Linked DNA regions of Homo sapiens: region 1 is linked to region 2. The links come from fine-mapping of genetic effects on gene expression. A gene starts in region 2. The other region holds a variant in brackets. All regions are shown on one strand. Distances are from middle to middle. Region 1 overlaps ZNF114 (zinc finger protein 114). Region 2 holds the start of ZNF114 (zinc finger protein 114).

Region 1 (8,842 bases), 23 kb after region 2:
TGGGAGGTGGAGCTTGCAGTGAGCCGAGATGGAGCCACTGCACTCCAGCCTGGGGGAAAGAGCGAGACTCCGTCTCAAAAAAAAAAAAAAGTAGGAAAGACCTCTTTAAACACTTACCACTCATGTTGCATGTGAATCCACATCCTGAAGGGAGGCTACAACTGGAATAAAAATAAGAAAGCTTTCAAGGCCTGGTGCAGTGACTCACACCTGTAATCCTAGCACTTTGGGAGTCCAAGGTGGGGGATTGCTTGAGTCCAGGAGTTTGAGACCAGCCTGGGCAACATGGAGAAACCCCATCTCTACAAAAAAAAAAAAAAAAATGCAAAAATTAACCAGGAGTGGTAGCACATGCCTGTAGTCCCAGCTACCTGGGGAGCTGAGGCAGGAGGATCGCTTGAGCCTGGGAGCTTGAGGCAGCAGTGAGCTGTGTTTGCACCACTGCACTCCACCCTGGGTGACAAAGTGACACCCTGTCTCAAAAAAAAAAAGAAAGCTTTCAGGTCCAGCCTTTCACTTAGGCACAATGAGCGCACAGTAGGACTGAAACACTGTAAATGTTCATGATTTTCCAGTTTTTCCTTTCTAAAAAAAAAAATGCTACAAGATGAAGGATATCCCTCTTTGCACACTCCCAGCTCTGCCACATAAATGTTGGTATATAGCAGGTTCATTATAACTCACATACACGTGGTCTCATTTTCAATGTGAAGCCTTCTTTGAGCCTCATTCAATTTAGACTTGGGATTCATATACTCCATGATACCATTTTTGTCTTATTGGTCACTGTTCAACTGCATTATGGTCAGAGTATGTGGTCTTTCTGGTACCAACTTGGGTTACTTGTTATGACTTTGTCAGTCTAATGTGCCCTATTCTGTCAACTTCCCTGCCACCTCCATTCTTCTCATCTTCTTTACTAAGGGCACATAGATTCACTTTCCACAATGAGCACTATTTAATGTCTTATTTTTATTTTTATTTTATTTATGTATGTATTTATTTTGAGACAGAGTCTTGCTCTGTCACCCAGGCTGGAGAGCAGTGGGGCAATCTCGACTTACTGCAACCTCTGCCTCCTGGGCTCAAGTGATTCTCCTGCCTCACCCTCCCGAGTAGCTGGGATTACAGACACCCACCACCACGCCCAGCTAATTTTTCTATTTTTAGTAGAGACGAGATTTCACCACGCTGGCCAGGCTGGTCTCAAACTCCTGACCTCAAGTGACCTGCCTGCCTTGGCCTCCCAAAGTGCTGGGATTACAGGCATAAGCCACTGTGCCCGGCCTCTTTTCAATCTTTTAAAAGTTGGGAAACGGCCGGGCATGTTGGCTCATGCCTGTCACCCCAGCACTTTGGGAGGCCAAGGTGGGCGGATCGCCTGAGGTGAGGAGTTCGAGACCAGCCTGACCAACATGGAGAAACCCCATCTCTACTAAAAATATAAAATTAGCCAGGTGTGGTGGCTCACGCCTGTAATCCCAACTACTCAGGAGGCTGAGGCAGGAGAATTGCTTGCATCTGGGAGGCGGAGGTTGCGGTGAGCCGAGATTGTGCCATTGCACTCCAGCCTGGGCAACAAGAGTGAAACTTATCTCAAAAAAAGTAAAAATAAAAATAATAAAAAATAAAAGTTGGGAAATATGACTACCTGAAAATGCATGAAAATGTACATATACATTTTTTTTTTCGAGATGGAGTTTTGTTCTTGTTGCCCAAGCTGGAGTGCAGTGGCGTGATCTCCGCTTACTGCAACCTCTGCCTCCCAGGTTCAAGTGATTCTCCTGCCTCAGCCTCCTGAGTAGCTGAGATTACAGGCACCTGCCACCACGACATTTCAAAGTTAATAAAGTGATCACCCTTATACCCACCATCCAAGCCCGTAAACAGCTCATCATTAAACACCAGGCAATTCACGTCTGTGCCTCACAGACGACATCTCCAGCCCCAAGAGGAAACCGCCATGGTTCATTTTGTATCATTCGCCCCCCTCGCTCATCTTTATGTTTGCAGCTATGCAGAAATCCCCAAATACCCTGTTTTCTAGTTTCGATGATGTTTATGCTGCGTATGATGGCATGGCATAGAATATTTCTTTGTGCCTTGCTTCTTTCAGGAAAAGAAAAGCTAAGCAGGTAGGGTGCAGGTGGCATTCATTCTTTCTTAGTTATATTCATTCCAGAGACCCTGGATCTGTATCTCACTTTAGAGATTATAAACATGCTGCTAACACCAATTTTGCAAAGCCCTCCCAATGAGCATTTTATGAAAGTCATTCTTGGCCGGGCGTGGTGGCTCACGCCTGTAATCCCAGCACTTTGGGAGGCCGAGGCAGGTGGATCACTTGAGGTCAGGGTTCAAGACCAGCCTGGCCAATGTGGTGAAACCCCGTCTCTACTAAAAATACAAAAATTAGTCAGGCATGGTGGCATGCACCTGTAGTCCCAGCTACTCAGGAGGCTGAGGCAGGAGAATTATTTGAGCCCAAGAGGCGGAGGTTGCAGTGAGCCGAGATCGTGCCACTGCACTCCAGCCTGGGCAACAGACAGAGTGAGACTCTGTCTCAAAAAAAAAAAAAATAGGCCGGGCGCGGTGGCTCATGCCTGTAATCCCAGCACTTTGGGAGGCCGGGGTGGGTGGATCACTTGAGGTCAGGAGTTCGGGACCAGCCTGGCCAACATGGCGAAACCCCATCTCTACTAAAAATACAAAACTTAGCCAGGCATGGTGCAGACATCTGTAATCCCAGCTACTTGGGAGGCTGAGGCAGGAGAATCACTTGAACAAGGGAGGCAGCGGTTGCAGTGAGCTGAGACTGCGCCACTGCACTCCCGTCTGGGCGACGGAGCGAGATTTCGTCTCCAAAAAAAAAGGAAAAGAAAAGAGAAACGCCACTGGTAAGAGCAGAGGTCCTCCTAGGCGCGCATTCTGCATGGCCCCAGCACTGTTAAGTTCAGCTTTCAGTGTTTGGGGAAGACCTGCAGGTCAGGGACCCCCACTGTGGCTGAGGGGGCTCAAGCTTGGCCCTTTCTCCCGGACCCCTGCTGCCTGCGTTTCCCAGCAATCTGCTGCTTTATCCTAGAATCTGGGTGACTCATGGCCCTCCCCATCCTGGAAGGAATGAAGAGGAGGAGGGGAGGCTGCTATGCCAGGACAGTCCCAGACCTTGCCAAGGGGCCTGGGTCCACTCCCACCCCCAGGGAGCGCTGTGCGGAGGAAAAGGACCATGGCTGAAATCAGAATCCCTGGATTCAACCGGGGGTGGAGGGGGCCGGGGCGGGAGGGGGGAAACATCTGTAGCTGAGGGAACACCCCTCCCGCCTCCAGTCGCTGAGGCTGAACTTAGCCGACTTTGGGGATTCCCCACCCTCTACCCCCAACTGGTCCTCAATTCTCACAGATGTAAACTGAGAATTTTCAACAATCGTTTTGGCAAACATACGCCAGGCCCCCTTCTGAGCGCTTTGCACCTATTAACTCATGCAACGCCTGCAACGCTATGAAGTGGCTGCTGTTATCACTACCATTTTACAGTGGGGGGAACTGAGGCACAGCGAGGCCAAGCACGATGCCCAAGATCACACAGCCAGCAGGTGGCCGGGAGGGGCTC[G/C]ACCCCGTGCTGTCAGGCACCAGAGACTCGGCTCTTCAGCCCCAGGCCAGAGCCTCCCTGCACTGACGGGGTCGCGAATTCGGGCAGGAGGGTTCGTGTGTGTCCTCACCTCTGGGACGCGAGCTCCGGGGACGGGGGACCTCGTCTGGCGTGGGAGGCATTTAGTGAGCGCCGTGGACTGAAGCCGGGACGGTCTTAGGAGAACCACTTCCCTTCTTGGCCGCCTGAAACCCCCTACAGGGTTCTGCTTCTGGAACTGCATTCGAGGTCAGAGTTTCTAGTACGAGTAAAGCGGATCCTCGGGAAGAGACCCGACCAGAAGGAAATCGCCGTCTTGGAAGATCTAAGTCCGGGATGGAACAAAACCCACTCCGGGCGGGGGGAGCGCGCCACCTGGCGGCGGATCCTGCTAAGGCAGCGCCGCCCGGAGACCAGAAACGTTGGATTTGGGCAGTGGGCCGAGGTGGTTGGAATTGGCGAATGGGCAGTTGTCTGAAAATCATTGTGTGAAACTAAGGACTGTCTACCAGTGGCTTCCAAAATTCTGACGCACAGTAAGAAATCATTTTGCGTCAGCATTTTTTTTTTTTTTTTTTTGAGACAAGGTCTTGCTCTGTTGCCCAGGTTGGAATGCAGTGGCACGATCTCGGCTCACTGCAAACTCCACTTCCAGGGTTCAAGCGATTCTCCTGCCTCAGCCTCCTGAGTAGCTGAGATTACAGGCGCCCGTCACCGCGCCTGGCTAATTTTTTATTTTTAGTAGAGATGGGGTTTTACAATGTTAGCCAGGCTGGTCTCGAATTCCTGGCCTCAAGTGATCTGCCCGCCTCGGCCTCCCAAAGTGCTGGGATTGCAGGCATGAGCCACCGTGCCTGGCCGCATCAGCATACTTTTACAAAAGAATACCACCCTCTATAGCCAACAACAATGGATTGTATACTTCAAAATAGCTAGAACATTTTGCATGTTTCACCGCAAAGAAATGGCAAGCATCTGGGATGATGGATTTGCTAATAACCTTGATTTGATCACTGCACAATTTATATATGTATCAAAACATCACGCCGCATCCTATAAATATGTACAATTAAAAACAAAATTTAGGCCGGCTGCAGTGGCTCATGCCTGTAATCCCAGCACTTTGGGAGGCCGAGGTGGGTGGATCACCAGGTCAGGAGTCCCAGACCAGTCTGGCCAAGATGGTGAAACCCCATCTCTACTTAAAAAAAAAAAAAAAAAAAAATTTGCTAGGTATGGTGGCGGGCACCTGTAATCCCAGCTACTAGGGAGGCTGAGGCAAAGAACTACTTTAACCCGGGAGGCAGAGGTTACAGTGAGCCGAGATCGCGCCACTGCACTCCAGCCTGGGTGACAGGGCGAGACTCCGTCTCAAAAAAAAGAAAATTTTAGTTTTAAAAATACCACCCTGTATTACACGGCCCTGTATTACACGATGCTTTATATTCCACTCTATTCCTTTTTTTTTTTTGAGACAGAGTGTCACTCTATCACCCAGGCATGATCTCGGCTCACTGCAACCTCTGTCCCCCAGGTTCAAGCAATCCTCCTGCCTCAGCCTCCCTCAGCCTCCTGAGTAGCTGGGATTACAGGCTCCCGCCATCATGCCCAGCTAATTTTTGCATTTTTAGTAAAGACGGGGTTTCACCATGTTGGCCAGGCTGGTCTCGAACTCCTGTCCTCAGGTGATCCGCCTGCCTCAGCCCCCCAAGGTGCTGTGATTACAGGCATGAGCCACCAGGCCCGGCCTATTCCTATTTTTAAATGCTGGTCAGGTCACCTTAAAATGGTTTCCTGACTCTCTAAGGGTCTGGGATAGGGTTTTCCACTGTTCTAGATTATCCCCATGTTTTTTCACTTGACAGAGATTATGATGAGGAACCGGTTACACCCACGCTACCTCCCAGTGAGCCTTCCCCACCACACAAAGCTGCCTCCAGGATTCGCTGCCAGCTCTGATGTCAGGATGAGTAACAGCTCAGGATGCTGAAGACACTGGCCCAAGACCACACAGCCTGGATGTGGCAGTGCCTGTTTCTGCCTCACTCCTGGAGGAGGAAAATGATTAAATACCCGTAATTTCACTGCTATTGAGTACAATTTAATTCATCCTTCCTCCACTTTGGCTGATAAGATTGAGCTGCACTCACCTGCTGTTCTCTTAGGCTGTAGCATAAGGCATTCCAGAGGTCAAACTTTAAAATGTCTTTTTCACTTTGGGAGGCCAAGGCGGGAGGATCACTGGAGGCCAGGAGTTCGAGACCAGCCTGGCCAACATGGTGAAACCTCCATCTCTACAAAAAATACAAAAATTAGCCGGGCGTGGTGGCACACATCTGTAGTCCCAGCTGCTCAGGAGGCTGAGGCATGAGAATCACTTGAACCTGGGAGGTGGAGGCTGGAGTGAGCCAAGATTGCACCACTGCACTCCAGCCTGGGCAACAGAGCAAGACCCTGTCTCAAAAAAATAAAAAATCAAAAATCTAGGTTGAATTCTCAGGTGTCTCTAAAGTGGCCTTCGATGTATTCTGCGCTGGGTGCTGCAGGGTTGACCATCTAAAAGTGGCGAGCCCAGCCCCAGTCCAGGGGAAGGTAGAGGAAGTGAACCTGCTCATTGTAGGACTAGGACCCTTGAGGTGACAGAGAGCTGTGGTTAGCCTGAGTCCATCGCACTGTGGTGGTCTATGAGGCCGCTTTGCAGGGGCAGCAAATCAGAAGGCTCGGTCTGCTGTGCTTACTCTGCTATCTTTGGAAGGAAAGAGGAGGAAATCGCTCCGAAATGGGAGATAGGGCTGGTGGTCACGACTCAGCTCCACACCAAGATGAGACTTCCTGGGCCCCCAGGGAGGAAGAATAGCAGTTCCACTGCCAGGAGCCACGCCTCAGAGGAGCTGCCTTTCCACCTCCCTCCTGAAATGCCATTTTCAAATTTCTCCTTTACTCTTCCATCCCCAGAACCTAGTACAATATATGGCACATAGTACATGCTCAATAAATATTTATCAAATTAATGAGAAAAGATATGTGGATGTCCCCTCCTGTGCAGCTGTAAGGGGAGAAATAGAGTTCTTTTTTTTTTTTTTTAACTTTCCTACACCAGTTTTATTTAAAACACAAAAATAAGTATTTCTCTTTCTGTAAGGAAAAATGGCTCAAATATTGCTGAACACAGGCCAGACTCAGTGGCTCACGCCTGTATTCCCAGCACTTTGGGAGGTCGAGGTAGGAGCACACTTGAGGTCAGGGGTTCGAGACCAGCCTGGCCAACACGGTGAAACCCCCATCTCAAATACAAAAAAAAAAAATTAGCCAGGCATGGTGGCAGGTGCCTGTAATCCCAGCTACTTGGGAGGCTGAGGCAGGAGAACTGCTTGAACCCAGGAGGCGGAGATTGCAGTGAGCTGAGATTGTGCCACTGCACTCCAGCCTGGGCGACAGAGCGAGACTCCGTCTCAAAAATAAATAAATAAATAAATAAATAGAAAGAAAACACTACACTCCTTTCCATCTTTATCGCTGTCCTGCTAATAGTCACATGTAGTTCTGAGCATTTACTACTTGCCAGGTACTGTTCTGAGGCTTTCTGTGTATCAGTTCATTTTATTCTCACACAAACAAGTATGTACTATTATCAAGCCATTTTATTTATTAATTTATTTATTTTCTGAGATACAGCTTCACTCTTGTCTCCCAGGCTGGAGTGCAGTGTCATGGTCTCGGCTCCCTGCAACCTCCGCCTCCCAGGTTCAAGAGATTCTCCTGCCTCAGCCTCCGGAATAGGTGAGATTATAGGCATGTGCCACCACACCCGACTAATTTTTGTATTTTTAGTAGAGACGGGGTTTCACCATGTTGGCCAGGCTGATCTTGAACTCCTGACCTCAGGTGATCCGCCAACCTTGGCCTCCCAAAGTGCTGGGATTACAGGCGTGAGCCACCACGCCCAGCCACTGTTCTAAGGCTTTGTGTATAAATTCATCTTATTCTCACACAAAAAAGTATGCACTATGATCAAGCCATTTTAAGGGGAGGCTCAGGGTGCTACCTGGATTAGGAAGGTGGATGATAGATTATCTGTTTGGATTTGAACTTTTTTTTTTTTTTGAGACACTCTCACTCTATTAACCAGGCTGGAGTGCAGTACCATGATCTCGGCTCACTGCAACCTCCGCTTCCCAGATTCAAGCAATTCTTGTGCCTCAGCCTCCCGAGTAGTTGGGAAGACAGGTGCACATCACCATGCTCTGCTAATTTTTGTATTTTTAGTCGAGACAGGGTTTCGCATGTTCACCAGGCTGGTCTTGAACTCCTGGGCTCAAGTGATCCACCCACCTCGGCCTCCCAAAGTGCTGGGATTACAGGCGTGAGCCACCACGCCCAGCCTGAATTTTTAGAAGTTTTTATATAGCTTTGATACCAATGGATTAAATTTTGACAGGGCATTTGGCATGACTCAACTACAGGAAAGAGTTATCAAGGTGTTCTAAGCCCTCTCACTCCTACACCCACCCCCGCTGCAGGAAAGGGCCAAAGTCAGCTTTTTCTCTGTGACCCTGTGGCTGGAGTTAGGGCTGTCCATAAATAATCCTTCCTTTCTCTCCTTCCAGGCACATGAAAAGACTGCGCTTCCCGGCGACCCTTTGAAGTTCGGCGTAACCTGCTGACCCGCTCTGGCTGAGTGTGAGCTAAGAGGACAGGTGTCATATCAGGTCCAAGCCTCGAGAGTCACTGCCTGCTGTGCCATCCTCTCTTCTTCCCGTGCCAAAGGACTGGCAGCACTCCAGTGATGGCTGTGCCATGGGCCCGGGGTACACGAGTGATATGGAGCGGAGCGCTCAGCTGGCCCACAAAGGAGAGAAAACTCTGCTGCCTGAGGACCACAGAGAATCTGCAGCTGTGACTGCAGCACAGCCCAGCCTGCCCTGACCAACATAGCTCCAAGAGAGCCAGACACGTGGATCTCAGAGAAATGGATGAATAGGCTGGGTGCGGTGGCTCACGCCTGTAATCCCAGCATTTTGGGAGGCTGAGGTGGGCAGATCACCTGAGGTCAGGAGTTCAAGACCAGCCTGGCCAACATGGTGAAACCCCATCTCGACTAAAAATACAAAAATTAGCCGGGCGTGGTAGTGGGCACCTGTAATCCCAGCTACTCGGGAGGCTGAGGCAGGAGAATCACTTGAACCCAGGAGGCGGAGGTTGCAGTGAGCCGAG
Region 2 (8,805 bases):
GGATGACAGGCTGTCACCACAGACCGCTGATGTCCCAGCTATGGGAGACTGCCCACCTCCCATAGACATTTTTTTTTCTTTTGAGATGGAGTTTCGCTCTTGTTGCCCAGGCTGGAATGCAATGGCATGATCTCAGCTCACTGCAACCTCTGCCTCTCAGGTTCTAATGATTCTCTTGCCTCAGTCTCCTGAGTAGCTGGGATTACAGGTGCCCACCGCCACGCTCAGCTAATTTTTGTATTTTTAGTAGAGATGGGGGTTTCACCATGTTGGCCAGGCTGGTCTTGAACTCCTGTCCTCATGACCCACTCGCCTCAACCTCCAAAAGTGCTGGGGTTACAGGCATGAGCCACCGCGCCCGGCCTCCGTAGACATTTTGTCAGAGGCATTTGAACCAGAGCAACTCCATCTTGAGTAGGAGGTGGAGAAAATGAGGCTGAGACCTACCGGGCTGCATTCCCAAATGATGAAGGCATTCTAAGTCACAGGATGAGATAGGAGGTCGGCACAAGATACAGGTCATAAAGACCTTGCTGATAAAACAGGTTGCAGTAAAGGAGCCGGCCAAAACCCACCAAAACCAGGATGGCGACGAGAGTGACCTCTGGTGGTCCTCATTGCTACACTCCCACCAGCTCCATCACAGTTTACAGATGCCATGGCAACGTCAGGAAGTTACCCTATGTGGACCAAAAAGGGAAGGCATGAATAATCCACCCCTTGGTTACCATATCATGAAGAAATAACCATAAAAACAGGCAACCAAGGCCGGGCACAGTGGCTCACGCTGGTAATCCCAGCACTTTGGGACGCTGAGGCGGGCAGATCACCTGAGGTCAGGAGTTCGAGATCACCCTGGCCAGTATGGTGAAACCACGTCTCTACTGAAAATACAAAAAAAATTAGCAGGGCCTGGTGGTGGGCACCTGTAATCCCAGCTACTCGGGAGGCTGAGGCAGGAGAATGGTGTGAACCCAGGAGGCGGAGGTTGCAGTTTGCCGAGATCACGCCATTGCACTCCAACCTAGGCAACAGGAGCGAAACTCCGTCTCAAAAAAGAAAGAAAGAAAGAAAGAAAAACATGTTAAATGACAACACAAGGATCTAATTGGCAAAACTGAAACCAAAGAAAATTTTACAGAAAAAATGACCTACTTTCTACAACAATAGCAATGTTTGAATGGGGGGATGGAATTAAATAAGTGGCAACTTAGATTAACAAAGAATTAACACACACACACAAAAACCTATTATAGTGGATGATTTGTATCTCTATGCAAAGCAATAAAGTAAAAATAAGAACCAGGGAAATGACAACATTAACGGGATATTTTATGATGTCCTGAATGATGATTACTTTTCATTGTAAGGGAGTATTCATGTAAGACAGTAAAGCATTTTTTAACTCTTCATCTTTTAAACATACATAGTGATATTTTTATTTTTTATTTTTTATTTATTGATACAGAGTCTCACTCTGTCACCCAGAGTGGAGTGCAGTGGCAAGATCTCAGCTCACTACAACCTCCACCTCCTGAGCTCAAGTGATCCTCCCGCCTCAGCCTCCCAAGTAGCTGAAGTAGCTGGGACTACGTGCACCACACGCCTGACTAATTTTTTTTTTTTTTTTTTTAGAGACAGGGTTTTGCCATTTTGCCCAGGGTGGTCTCGAACTCCTGAGCTCAGGCAATCCACCCACTTCGGCCTCTCAAAGCATGAACCACTGTACCTGGCCATCGTAGTGATATTTTTACAGGTGAAATAATATAATGTTCCCAATTTTCTTTAAAAAGATCCACCTAGCAGTGAAGGCATAGGTGAAACGGGATATTGAGGATACCAGAAAAGAAGCAGGTTTTTTTGTGGTTTTTTGTGGGTTTTTTTTTTTTTTTTTTTTTTGAGACAGAGTCTCGCTCTGTCACCCAGGCTGGAGTGCAGTGGCGCAATCTTGGCTCACTGCAACCTCCGCCTCCTGGCTTCCAGCGATTCTCCTGCCTCAGCCTCCCAAGTAGCTGGGATTACAGGCGTCCACCACACCCAGCTAATTTTTGTATTTTTAGTAGAGACTGGGTTTCACCATGTTGGCCAAGCTGGTCTCGAACTCCTGATCTCGTGATCCGCCCGCCTCAGGCTCCCAAAGTGCTGGGATTACAGGCGTGAGCCACCGCCCCTGGCCAAGAAGCAGGTTTTTGAAGGGAGAGGATGAGAAAACAAGGGAAGGGAAGCACTGCTGGAGATGAAGACCCAGAGAAAATAGAAGGGAATTGGACACCTACAACCACTAGAGGTCGCAAGAGGAATATCCTTTAGTGCCCTGAGCCCAGACCTGAACCAAGGTTTAACAGGGTTCTTCTCAAGTCCTTGGACTCCTTCGGTCATAATTTGGGAGCCTCCAAAAAGGAGAGCCTGAAATGAGGGCTTACGTGCAGGTAGTTTATTTGGGGAAGAGGTCAGAAATTTTCTTTTTTTTTTTTATGGAGTTCCGCTCTTGTTGCCCAGGCTGGAGTGCAATGGCACACTCGGCTCACCGCAACCTCCGCCTCCCAGGTTCAAGCGATTCTCCTGCCTCAGCCTCCCGAGTAGCTGGAATTACAGGCATGCGCCACCACGCCCGGCTAATTTTGTATTTTTAGTAGAGACGGGGTATCTCCATTTTGGTCAGGCTGGTCTTGAACTCCTGACCTCAGGTGATCCGCCCACCTCAGCCTCCCAAAGTGCTGAGATTACAGGTGTGAGCCAACGCCCCCAGCCCGAGGTCAGAAATTTTCTTATGTCACATTGTACTTTTTTTTTTTTTTTTTTTTTTTTGAGACAGAGTCTCACTCTGTTGCCCAGGCTGGAGTGCAGTGGCACGATCTCGGCTCACTGCAACCTCTCCCCGTCAGGTTCAAACAATTCTCCCGCCTCAGCCTCCCGAGTACCTGGGACTACAGGCATGCACTACCATGCCTGGCTCATTTTTGTATTTTTAGTAGAGACGGGGTTTCACCATGTTGGCCAGGCTGGTGTTGAACTCCTGACCGCAGGTGATCCGCCCGCCTCAGCTTCCCAAAGTGCTGGGATTACAGGTGTGAGCCACCATGCCCAGCCATACATTTTACTTTTGAACACTACATACCGTGGAATACTTTTCAGACTTTAAAAGGAATGAAATACTGATACATGCTTCACCGTAGGTGAACTTGGAAAACATTGTGCAAAATTAAATACGTCAGACACAAAAAGGCAAAGGCCGAGTGATTCCACTTCTAGGAGATTCCTAGAACAGTCAAATTCCTGGACACAGAAAGTAGAACAGAGCTTACCAGGGACTGAGAGAAAAAGGGAATGGGGTGTGATTATTTAACGGGTACGGAGTTTTAATTGGGAAAGATGACAAAGTTCTGGAGATGAATCGTGATGATGGTTACACAGCGATGTGGCTGTACTTAATGCCACTGAAGTGTACACTTTAAAATGGTTCACATGGAGGCCGGGCACGGTGGCTCATGTCTGTAATCCCAGCACTTTGGGAGGCCGAGGTGGGTGGATCACGAGGTCAGGAGATCGAGACCATCCTGGCTAACATGGTGAAACCCCATCTCTACTAAAAATACAAAAAAAATAGCTGGGCGTGGCAGATGCCTGTAGTCCCAGCTACTCAGGAGGCTGAGGCAGGAGAATGGCGTGAACCCGGGAGGCAGAGCTTGCAGTGAGCCAAGATCGTGCCACTGCACCTCAGCCTGGGTGACAGAGGGAGAGTCCGTCACAAAAAAAAAAAAAAAAATGGTTCACATGGAAATGTTTGTGATGTATATTTTATCACCGTAAAAAAATGTAACTGGGGTAAGTATGATCAATATTTGGCAATTTAAGCTTTATGGTAGAATTTCATTACTAGAGTGAAGAAAGACAGTCCATAAAAAATAAATTATTTAGGCCGGGGTGCAGTGGCTCATGCCTGTAATCCCAGCACTTCGGGAGGCCGAGGCAGGTGGATCACCTGAGGTTGCGAGTTCGAGGCCAGCCTGACCAACATGGAGAAACCCCGTCTCTACTAAAGACACAAAACTTAGCCAGGCATGGTGACGTGTGCCTGTAATCCCAGCTACTCGGGAGGCTGAGGTGGGAGAATTGCTTGAACCCGGGAGGCAGAGGTTGTGGTGAGCTGAGATTGCGCCATCGCACTCCAGCCTGGGCAACAAGAGCGAAACTCCGTCTCAAAATAAATAAATAAATAAATTATTTAATTGACCAGATAGGGACTCCCAGCCCTTCCTTCCTGGGGAGCTCCAGGAGCTGGCTGGGCTGGGCTTAATCTTTCCTCCCAAAGAACCAAAAGAAAAAGAGATGCACATCAAGGTTTGCTGGGGACCCTCAAAGGAAAAGAAACGATGTAACTCGAGTAGAGGATAAACGCTTTGTTCAGCTGATTTGCATCAGGGGCACCTGAAGATCAAGCGACTCCCCAGTTAAGCAGAGTCAGGGTGGGAAACTGAGTCTGTGTCCTAGAGGTCTGGGTTTAGGCAGTCATTTTGGGTTTTGTTTTGTTTTGTTTGTTTTGAAACGGAGTCTTGCTCTGTCACCCAGGCTGGAGTGCAATGGCGCTATCTCAGCTCACTGCAACCTCCTCCTCCCAGGTTCAAACGATTCTCCTGCCTCAGCCTCCCGAGCAGCTGGGATTACAGGTATGCACCACCATGCCCAGCTCGTTTTTGTATTTTTAGTAGAGACAGGGTTTCGCCATGTTGGCCTTGAACTCCTCGCCTCAGGTGATCTGCCCACCTCAGCCTCCCAAGGCCAGAGGATCACTTTAAGCCCAGTGTCAGGCCTCTGAGCCGAAGCTCAGCCATTGTAACCCCTGTGACCTACACATATACGTCCAGATGGCCTGCAGGAGCCAAGAAGTCTGGAGCAGCCGAAAAACCACAAAAGAAGTGAAACAGCCAGTTCCTGCCTTAACTGATTAACCCACCTTATGACATTCCACCATTATGACTTGTTCCTGCCCTGCCCCAACTGATCAGTCGACCCTGTGACATTCTTCTCCTGGACAATGAGTCCCATGATCTCTCCACAATGCACCTTGTGAGCCCCTCCCCTGCTGACAACAAATAACCACCTTTAACTGTAACTTTCCACTGCCTACCCCAGCCCTATAAAGCTGCCCCTCTCCTATCTCCCTTCGCTGACTCTCTTTTCCAACTCAGCCCACTTGCACCCAAGTGAATAAACAGCCTTTGTTGCTTACACAAAGCCTGTTTAGGTGGTCTTCTATACGGACACGCGTGACACCCAGGAGTTCGAGACGAGTCTGGGCAGCATAGTGAGTTTTCATCTCTAAAAAAAAAAAAAATTAAAATTAGCCAGGCATGCCTTGTACGTGCCTGTGGTCCCAGCTACTTGGGAGACTGAAGTGGTAGGATCGCTTGAGGCTGCAGTGAGCCAAGATTGCGCCACTGCACTCCAGCCTGAAGGACAGAGCAAGAACTTGTCTCAGAAAAAAAAAAAGAAAAAAAGAATAAGAAAAGGAAAAAAATAAAAAAGGAAGGAAGGGAGGGAGGGAGGGGCAGAGAGGGAGAGAGGAAGGGGGGAAGGAAGGAAAGAAAGAAAGAAAGAGAAAGGGAGGGAGAGAGAGAAAGGAAAGAAGGGAGGGAGGGAAGAAAGAGAAAGAAAAAAGAAAGAAGAAAGAAAGAAAGAGAAGAAAGAAGGGAGGGAGGAAGGGAGGGAGGGAGAAAAGGAGGAAGGGAGAGAGAGAAAGAAAAAGAAGAAAGAAAGAGAAAAAAGGAAGGAAGGAGGGAGGGAGAGGAAAAGAAAGAAAGAGAAGAAAGAAAGAGAAAAAAGGGAAAGAAAGAAAAGAGAAAAAAGAGAAAGAAAGAAAGAAAGAAAGAAAAGAAAAGAAGGGCCGGGCGCGGTGGCTCACGCCTGTAATCTCAGCACTTTGGGAGGCCGAGGCGGGCGGATCACGAGGTCAGGAGATCGCTGAAACCCTGTCTTTACTAAAAATACAAAAACTTAGCCAGGGTGGTGGCGGGCGCCTGTAGTCCCAGCTACTCGGAGGCTGAGGCGAGAGAATGGCATGAACCCGGGAGGCGGAGGTTGCAGTGAACCGAGATCGCGCCACTGCACTCCAGCCTGGGCGACAGAGCGAGACTCCGTCTCAAAAAAAAAAAAGAAAGAAAGAAAAGAAAGGAAGGAAGGAAGAAAAAAATCATTTCAAGGGTAGGCGACGGGAGCCTTGCGGTTTAGCCGCTAGTCAACGGATGGGGGGGAGTGGTAGCAAAAACATAAAAATGGGGACAAGAGAGAAACTGGAGACTCCCCAACCTGTCTGTTTCCGCCCTTTTACAGTACTGAGGGGAAAAAAAAGCCTTCTTTCCTTGGGAAATGCAGGAAGCCAGCAAGCGGCCGGAGTCTCCGGAGCCCGCAAGGAGGCGCGTTGGCTGCGCAGAGAGCGCGCTTCCCAGCTGGAGAGCCTAGGAACGGTGGCGCGGGCGGAGGCGACAGCGAGGACCCAAGGCTGGGGTTTCCTGCTTGGATCAGGAGTGCCTGGGGAGTAAGTTCTACAGGAAATGTCAATCTACTGGTCGTGGGGGTCAGACTCTGGGGTCGGGTCGATCGGGTCCCGGGGGCGGGGGGTGGGACGGGGGTGGGCAGGCAGGAGTGCGGGCGCTGGGATCCCCTGCCTGCTCGGCTCCCCTCTCCTCCCCCTGGTCCCTTACACCGTCCATTTTGAGGAAGGGGTCAAGAAGCGAGTACAAAATGTCTGGGCAGGACGAATCTCTGTAGTCGGTCCTTCCTGGCGGCCTCGTTAGGTTGATTTATTTCAACAGTTTGATCCCCATCCTGGTGCAGCTCCGAGACGCTCCTGGGCTGCGCGCGCTTTTGGGCTGCGCCACCGACAGAGACATCTGGAAGCCGGAGCTAGTGGAAGAGTAAGTGTGCCTGAGTGTCCGTACTAAGGGCGGGACCGGGCCGGGGCCCAGGGACTTGAGAGTTGCTGTCTGCAAAAGCCTCATTGTCTCTACCCTTCCGGGAGGAAAGGGGAAGGCACGAATGACCCACGTGTTCAGACCCCGAGCGCGCCCTTCACCTTGGCCCAGGGAGAAGGGCGCTTCCCCCATACCGTGCTGCAGCGTTGCGAAAGCGCCTGTCCCCGGGCTTGGGCAGCAGAGATGCCCGCATGCAGCGGTTGCAGGGGTTGTGTTCTTTGCATCCATGAAAGTATTGGAGCTGGCCGGGCGCGGTGGCTCACGCCTGTAATCCCAGCATTTTCGAAGGCCGAGGTGGGCGGATCACCTGAGGTCAGGAGTTCGAGACCAGCCTGGCCAACATGGTGAAACCCCCATCTCCACTAAAAATACCAAAATTAGCTGGCCGTGGTGGCATGCGCCTGTAATCCCAGCTACTCAGGAGGCTGAGGCAGTAGAATCGCTTGAACCCGGGAGGTGGAGGTTGCAGTGAGCCGAAATCGAGCCATTGCACTCCAGCCTGGGCGACAGAGGGAGACTCTGTCTCAAAAAAAAAAATAAATAATAATAATAATAATAATTAGCCGGGCATGGTGGCGGGCGCCTGTGATCCTAGCTACACGGGAGGCTGAGGCAGGAGAATCGCTTGAACCTGGGAGGTGGAGATTGCAGTGAGCCGAGCGCCTGTAATCCTAGCTACTTGGGAGGCTGAGGCAGGAGAATCGCTTCTACCTGGGAGGTGAAGGTTGCAGTGAGCCGAGATCGTGCCACTGCACTCTAGCCTGGGCGACAGAGCAAGACTCTCTCTCAAAAAAAAAAAAAAAAAAAAAAAAAGTATTGGATTGGAGCCTGTTGTGATGAGGGTGAACTGAAAAGTCCTGGGCAGGGCCAGACGTGCAGGATGCACTGGTTTCTTACGAGAAAGAGCTTTTTTTTTTTTTTTTTTTTTGAGAGGGAGTCTCGCTCTGTCACCCAGGCTGGAGCGCTGTGGCGCGATCTCTGCTCACTGCAAGCTCCGCCTCCCGGGTTCACGCCATTCTCCTGCCTCAGCCTCTCAAGTAGCTGGGACTACAGGCGCCCGCCACCGCGCCCGGCTAATTTTTTGTATTTTTAGTAGAGACGGGGTTTCACCGCGTTAGCCAGGATGGTCTCGAGCTCCTGACCTCGTGATCTGCCCGCCTCGGCCTCCCAAAGGGCTGGGATTACAGGCGTGAGCCACAGCGCCTGGCCAGATAAAGAGCTTTGAGGGTTTGAGTTCCGTGTGCTGAACATGGTCTTTTATGGGAACTGAGACCTCAGCAGAGGAAATATATAAAAAGGACAAGCTGCAAGGAGAGTGGTGTGAAGGTGTCAGGATCAAACCCCACGGTCGGAACAAGATGCATTTTTATCACTAATCCGCTCCGGTGAGGTCTGATTTACTGGAACTCAGGGCAAAGGTGGGAATGTGTTTCATCAGCCAGGTATATCTTCGTCATGGACAATCAGGCAAAAGCCAACCTCAGCCTGCTCACCTGAGCTGACTCACAATGATGCGTTGTTTTTCTTTTTCTTTTCTTTTCTGTTTTTTTTTTTTTTAAACTACTGTCCTGAGCTGATGTGTCTGAGGTTACTAGGGTCAGAACCGGCGCTCCAATTGTATTGGGGAAAGGACGGAATTCAGGGAAACTTAAATTGAAATAGGCGGTTTTATCTTCTTAGGTAGGCTTACAGCTGAGATGCGTGTAATGGGGTTATCATCAGGTGTGGCTGTTTCCTTGGGAACTATAAGGTCAAGATAGACGTGGAATGTTGTGTCTCAAAAACTCTTATTTACAGCTCAGCCCCTGAGTTGCACAGGCTTGCTTCTGTGTCA

What was found. PIP is the estimated chance that this variant, and not a neighbour inherited with it, causes the effect.
Region 1: its variant is the best candidate, but not a certain one, in a credible set for the expression of ZNF114 in hippocampus (GTEx, PIP 0.55).

Annotation. Positions count from the first base shown.
Region 1 is chr19:48,287,421-48,296,262 of GRCh38, forward strand. It overlaps ZNF114 (zinc finger protein 114), which reads left to right. Exons shown (of 6, transcript NM_153608.4): 6 at 1-188. Among named protein-coding and RNA genes, the nearest start is that of ZNF114-AS1, 20 kb to the left of the region's middle. RefSeq lists enhancers at 3,717-3,766, 3,787-3,836, 3,954-4,602, 7,882-8,383, 8,384-8,842. The variant G/C (reference allele first, on the strand shown) is at 3,611.
Region 2 is chr19:48,264,915-48,273,719 of GRCh38, forward strand. It overlaps ZNF114 (zinc finger protein 114), which reads left to right and starts at 5,167. Exons shown (of 6, transcript NM_153608.4): 1 at 5,167-5,305; 2 at 6,331-6,535; 3 at 6,813-6,914. It overlaps ZNF114-AS1 (ZNF114 antisense RNA 1), which reads right to left and starts at 6,918. Exons shown (of 3, transcript XR_936008.4): 1 at 6,702-6,918; 2 at 5,231-5,319. RefSeq lists enhancers at 2,179-2,228, 6,408-6,914, 6,915-7,420.